2 separate regions of the Homo sapiens genome follow, and region 2 is reported to be linked to region 1. Evidence: microRNA targets listed by miRTarBase, many of them from high-throughput screens and not tested one by one. Region 1 holds a microRNA gene; the other region holds the end of a gene's coding sequence.

Region 1 (3,410 bases):
AACTACTGGAGGAATCCAACTCTAGGACCGCTACTTATAACTAAAGACAAGATACTAGCACAAGGCCACTCTGCTGTCCATGGAGAAATACCACCAAGCAGACAAAACATGTTACTGCTGTGCTCAGGCTCTGCCTGCACCGCTGGGCACAGGGCTGGGGTGTCAGTCACGCAGGAATGCAGAAAGCAGGAGGACTCACCAGAAAGGTGGGTCAAAAAGGAGATGTACACAGGCAGGAGGCCGAGCAAGGCACCCATCCATGGAAAACGTGGCGTAAAGATTTGGGGTTATTATGGTTGGTGGTGGGGGCTGGTGAGCAGATCTAATATCTGCACCTCGAGAACACACCATCCCTTCCAGCCAGGGTGCACAGCAAGCAGCTGGCACAGAGCCCCCCTTCCCCCACTCCATTCATGCCCCTGAAGCGGCAACTTAATTTTCTTTAAAGGGAGATTGGGGAGGGAATGGAGAGACGAAGAGAAGACAAATAGCTGGAGAAAGATAAATACCTAAGTAAGTTCCAGGAAAACACACACAGAGGAAACACACCAATGCTGAAACCGCAATGATCCAGAAGAAGCTAGTGTTTGGTTACCATTTGCTTCAGCATCCCAATTTCCCTGATCATCTTTTGTTTTTTTCTTTCTTTTTCTTTTTCTATTTTTGAGACAGGTCTTGCTTTCTAGCTAGGCTGGAGTAGTCATGCGATCATAGATCATTGCAGCCTTGAACTCCTGGGCTCAAGAAATCTTCCCTTCCCAGCCTTACAAGTAGCTGGGACTATAGGCATGTACCCCTATGCCCAGCAACTTTATTTTCTGTAGACATGAGGTCTCATAATGTTTCCCAGGCTGGTCTTGAACACCTGGCTTCAAGTGATCCTCCCACCTCAGCCTCCCAAAGTCATTGATCATCTTGACGTATTTCCTCTCATTAGCTTGTCATTTTCCAGCAGGATATTCTGCGGTCCAGTTTCCCTGTTCTGCTCTCAAATGACTGACAGGGGGCCGACACCCTCAGGAGTCACCTCCATGCAGATGGGGCACTGGAGCACTGCTCTGTACCTCCCAGCAGAGGTGGTGGAATGAGGAGGATGTGAGTATCCACCTTTTTTAGTACAGGCTCCACGAAAATAAACCATACCACCAAATAAATGGTTTAATTTTATTTCAAAATTGTACAAAATGGCCATAAGCGGCTATAAAAAATTTGTCTTCAGAACATGTGGAAATTCAGAAACAACAAAACAGGTATCATTCACAGTGTAATGGAAAAGCTTTTTCTGAGGCAGGAATTATAACTCTTCCTTCTTTTTCCCTAGTCTTTCATGGTCTCCCTCCCGGAGGGCTCGAATATAATTGGTAAATCCCAATTCCTGCAGGGAAGTGGGAGAGAGAGAGAGAGAAAGAGCTTTAATCCCTGAGCTGGCTGTGCACTCTCTCTCCCCACACCCCCAGCCCCTCCAGGGGGTCACTCCTATGACAGGGAGAGGTGGGCAGACTTCTGCAAGGTGGAGAGGGTCTGCGTGGCTTGCACCAGCCCCGACCAGCAAGTGAGAAAACCCTCGGCATCTGGAGTCCAGCCTGCCTCTGGGGACAGGACATCTGTGGCAACCCCTTGGGACTCTCCTCCAACAATGTCAAGCCTCAGCCAGGCCCAGGGCCTGGGCCTCTCGGTGCAGTGTTCCAGCTGACTTCTGCAGTTTCTGGGATGCTGCCCAGTGCTGCCCCTCCTCAGTGGAAGTTTCCCTGCCCATCAGCAGAGAGAGAGCTCTGGGCAGACGCCTCTCCCCCACTTACTGTGCGGTCGCTGTCATACTTTTCTGCGAACTTCCCATAGTGGTAGTAGTGGAAAGTGGGGTAGCCCTTGACCGCCTCCTGCTGGCACAGGTCTTGGTTCTTGTCTTTGACACAGTCAACAGCGGCACAGGCAATCTAGGAGCCAAGGTAAAGAGAGTTGGCACAGGGTGTCCCCAGGCTGAGGCCTGGACCCCACAACACAGATTGCACATCTAGTCCACGTCACAGGCCCACTCTGATTTTTCTCCTCAGTGGCAGGTAGGAACTGAACCAAAGCACCCCCAGCTCAGGACTCCTTGGAGACTGATGGTGCTTGTTTTCAATTTCCAGATGGGTAAGGTTAGGGGACTCGGCCTGGAGTGCCTTTAGACTGTCCTTTAAAATCAAGAGTATGATGATCGTAAAGGAAATGATGACTTGAAAGCATTTGTAAACACCACAGGTTCTGTGGTGCTATCTGTAAGGGACTGTAGGATTTAATCATTTCTCCACTAATATTTCCGGAACATTAGCTTGGGGGGACAGTATAGTGCCAAGGTTAAGGGCAAGAGCTTTCAAGTCAAGTTCCCCAAGTGCACTCTTGGTTTGCCTGGACAGTAAGACTTAAGGAAAATAACTCAGCCTCTTGGTGCCTCATTTTTTTCAGCTGTAAAATGGGGATAATAATAGTATCTAGGCTATCAGGATATTGTGAAGACTGAATAAGAGAATTCCAGTGAGGCCAGTGAGCACAGAACCTGGCACCAGATTCATGGTCAGGAAATGTCAGCTGCTATTACAGTCACTTCTTCCAACCCCATATACAAGCTCTGTCCCCACTTAGGGGCTCAGTGTCTGGGCAGGGGTTGGATAAAGGGACAATTCCAACATGATGTGATGTGAGGGATGAGGGAGGTGGTCCAGGTGCCAGGTGAGTGGGGCAAAGGCGCTCTGTATGATTCGCCATCTGAGCCAAGACTGGAAGAGGAGGAGACCAGGGAAGCACATCTGGAAACTGGAGGAGCCCCGCATGAGTAAAGCCATCAGAATGTTTGGTCAGAAAGTGGTTCCCACATTGGCCACTGGCCTCTTCTTGACCATCTAGCAAATTCCACATGCTGGGTAGCTTTTCCTCATCATTTGTTGTTTTTTCAAAGGAAGACAGTATAAAGCAGAAATGGGGAACTTGTTTCCGGTTGAGGGTCATGCACCAGGGAAGCCCGAGAAGGGGTCCTCAATGGCCATACCCAGTACAGAGGTGTTATGGAAGATGGGGCAGATTCCCATGAGAATGAGTCCTCCTACCAGGCAACACACACTGAAACCCTGCCGTGTGCCAAGCCTGTTCTAGATGCTGGGGGACAACGTCGACCTTGACAAAGTCCAGTTATCAAGCGTCTGCTGTATGACAAATTAGATCATTTTAGATAGAGCTCAATGAATGCTTGGAAGAAATTAAAAGAGGGTGATTCAATAAGATAATTTAAAATTATTGAATAACCATGATTCACACAGTTCTTTGGTTGATGGTTATTTGCATTTGGACAAAGCCCCTTTCCAGGTAGGAGAATCCTGTGGGCCCCCATGGCCACGTTTACTCATCATGTCCCTCATGCCCAGGTGAGCTGCCAG
Region 2 (3,410 bases), not on the chromosome of region 1:
AACTTCTCACTCAATGCCTGCTCAATTCATTCAACAAAATTCACTAAACATTTAAGTTCCCACTCTGACAAGTATTATTCTAGGCTCATTTGCTAATCCCTAGCATATTTTGGACTATGAAATTCATTTGCAATTGAATATAATATCAGAAGAAATTACAGGGTGATACTGTATACCTAACGATATAAAAAAATTTTGTTTATTGTAGGTACGGCTGCTTTTTTGTGGTATGACAGTGTTAGAAATGATTCGTTTGTAATCTTCTTTGCCTGTTATGGTCAAACTATTATCTAATTATATTTTTAAATTTATCTTTTAGGGACAGTATGGAAATTACCAGCAGTGAAAAAGTACTTACATTCCAGTAGCCAGTATCTATTAGCAGCCATATTGTCACCTCAGCACTGTGGACACCTCCCTGTGAAGAGATCCTTCCATTCCATCTAGTTTTTGGAAAAACCTTGTGGATAAGTGGCTGTTTCATCAGTAAGCAGCCTTTGTGGTTTAGTTATAAAAGGCTTTAGTAGCTCAAAAATACTCTTGATTTCACATTTCTACTCTAGATGGCAACATTGGACAGAAAATGCAATGACATAACCAATTTGTAATGATTTTGGAACTGTGTTTCAAATGGACTGTTACAGACTGAAAGGTGTGAACAGCTTTGTATGTTTATGAAGGGTAAGGGAATTTAATACTTTTCCACAGATTTTTTTGTAAGGGGAAGAGGGAAATGTACACTTTTTACAGCAGCAATATTTTGTATATTATGTTTATTTCATGTGGTGAATATGCAAGGCGGTACACTACGCACTGGACAGCATCAGAAATCCTCTGTTAATGTGGACTGGAACATGGTAGATGCTTGATTGTTTTGGTCTCAAAATGGTGTGCTATAAAGATAAAGGTGAGGGGAAGACAAAGCACACCATATGTCCACTGTTCTGTTCTCATAGAGGAAATTCAAATCCCTTTTATCTATTAGATAATCAAGGGCACTGTGATACAGTTTTGAGTAAAAAGACATTTTTTAAAAGCCTTCCAGTTTTGTGGATTAAACCTTTTTATAAAGATCATTTATAATACTGTTTTAAAATGTGAGGCAATAAGAATTACTTTGTGTTGGATCTGAGGAGGCTTTGGTAAAACAGTTTCATCTAAATGAAAGTGGTAATCCTCTTCTAAAATAGCAATAACTGAAAATGAAAGTGTTAATTTTACCTTGTTTGAGTTATCAGGGAACTTAGTAAGTAATATCAAAGCATTTTATAAATGATATCAAAGAAGAGTCAACATTGATCCAGTCATTTTATTTTGTAATATTGAGGGATAATTGGTTATTAAACTGAATAGTTCAGGAGACTTTACAAACCTTTGTTTCAACTTTCTTATCTGGAAATAATATCATTTATAAAGGGACACTTTTATGTTTTTCCCTTTTTTATGTTGGTTGATATAACACAAAGAGATATTTAGGAAAATGCTTATTGATGAGGTTTATTCTATCTGTTTTTAAAGCACCGAGGTTGCATTCTAGATAACCTTGTTTATTAGCATGGCATATTTTAATCATTATTTGAGACTGTCCTGTGCCTGATTATTTTAGCTAAATTCAGGGAGATTGCGTGGGGCAGGAAAGCATGCATTGAAAAATTTCTAACCACGGTTATTTAAGCATAATCTGAAAACATCTAGCCCAAAGGTAAGTTGCTATTTTCATCACAGTTGCCTATGCCCAGGGAATAAGATGTATTCTTTATAATTGAATTGGTTTTTCCCACGTCTAACTGGAAACAAAACAGAAGGGGCGTCATAAATTTGAATAAGCAGAACATACTGTTCTCAACATACTGTAATCAAAAGGAGGAATTTCAGTGGGTCTCTGTGTGTGTATGAGAGAGAGAGTGTGTGTTTGTGTGTTTCAAGGTCAGAACAGGTTTTTTTGTTTTTGTTTTTTGTTCTTTGTTTTTTTTTTTGAGATGGAGTCTTGCTCTTGTCGCCCAGGCTGGAGTGCAGTGGCGCAATCTCAGCTCACTGCAACCTCCGCCTCCCAGGTTCAAGCAGTTCTCCTGCCTCAGCCTCCTGAGTAGCTGGGATGACAGGCACCCGCCACCACACCCAGCTAATTTTTGTACTTTTAGTAGAGACGAGGTTTCGCCATGTTGGCCAGGCTGGTCTCGAACTCCTGACCTCAGGTGATCCACCCGCCTCGGCCTTCCAAAGTGCTGGGATTACAGGCGTGAGCCACCGTGCCTGGCCAGAATAGGTTTTTTCTTTCAACTTGATCAGTAGAAAATGGACATCAAGTTTGAACAGATAAATCATGGACAGCCTTATTGTGATTGAAATGCTTGTAGGTTCTGTGCCAATTTTCCACCACTGTGTACTTTGTTGCTATTTAAAACTGTATCAACTCTAACGGAAGAATAAATTATTTGTGATTTTAATTTTCTCATTTGTTTCTTTAAATTAGATCTCTTTGACTCTCTTGTCTTGTCTGGAGACTATGCTGTGGGTTTTTATATAAGTTAGTCCAGTATAAGCAGACTATATTTGTATTCTAGGACTTTATCAAAATTCTCTTGCCATGCCCAAGTTAATTAGAATTAACCGTTCAGTAATCAGCATGTTGTGTAGGCTGTTTGTTACAGAATTCTTTCTCCGAAAATGAAGTCCATAAGGCTATAATCAAGATGACTGAATTAGATAAATGAGTTGAGGAGACAAAATTGTACTGAACCCAACCTGGTGTAGTACGTTATCTCATTTGAAATAAGCTCAACTGACATTAAGAAATAATTTGTCTTGCCAACCCATCTTCTGTTGTCTTATTCTCCTTTTAATGGAAACTAAAATTGCAATTTTAATAAGCAGAATTTCCTCCAGGACTTTCTTCCTGGAGACTAGTGCATTTGCAAGGTTTAATTGTTTTATAACAGTCCTATTTTGTAAAAGTTTTTAATTGGTGGTGACAAAAATTACCTTACTCCTCTGATACCTAGTAAGAGGAATAACTTTACCAGTAGCTGTCTACTAGATTTGACATTTCTGTACAGACTATATATTCTACAACTGAAATTTGCATTTTATCGAAGTAATAATATCATACTATCCCATAAAATTCCAGAAACAAAGTATTACCAAGAAAAGAGTGGGGTCACTATTAAACATTTCAAAATATGCTAAGTGTGTTAGTTCTGTTATTTGGGAATATGTTATTATTCTGTAGCATTATTCAGGTGGCACATTGTTTTTGGTTTTCTCTTAAAATTTTTTAATGGAATTTTTAAACATACACCCAAGTGTAGAGCAGAGTATGGTGCGATGGGCCCCCATGTAATGTTAACCCAATTTATATACTTAGCAACTCATGGCGAAACTTCTGATTGTTCATACACTAACCCCCAAAT

Evidence for each region. The annotated mature microRNA hsa-miR-7110-3p reads UCUCUCUCCCACUUCCCUGCAG and lies in region 1 at 1,376-1,397, opposite strand. An mRNA with a match to its seed (bases 2 to 7 or 8) in the 3' UTR can be bound and repressed. Matches are read on the target gene's strand: a 7mer-m8 pairs with bases 2 to 8, a 7mer-A1 pairs with bases 2 to 7 and ends in A, and an 8mer does both.
Region 2: the mRNA of SS18 is a reported target of hsa-miR-7110-3p. Seed matches in the 3' UTR shown: 8mer at 1,895-1,902, 8mer at 1,897-1,904 and 7mer-m8 at 1,899-1,905.

What each region holds. Positions count from the first base shown.
Region 1 is chr3:123,159,845-123,163,254 of GRCh38, reverse strand. It overlaps MIR7110 (microRNA 7110), which reads right to left and starts at 1,461; the gene lies at 1,376-1,461. PDIA5 (protein disulfide isomerase family A member 5) reads right to left here. Exons shown (of 17, transcript NM_006810.4): 16 at 1,800-1,934; 17 at 1,151-1,375. The coding sequence ends at 1,295.
Region 2 is chr18:26,015,290-26,018,699 of GRCh38, reverse strand. It overlaps SS18 (SS18 subunit of BAF chromatin remodeling complex), which reads left to right. Exons shown (of 11, transcript NM_001007559.3): 11 at 320-2,447. The coding sequence ends at 346. Among named protein-coding and RNA genes, the nearest start is that of SS18, 74 kb to the left of the region's middle.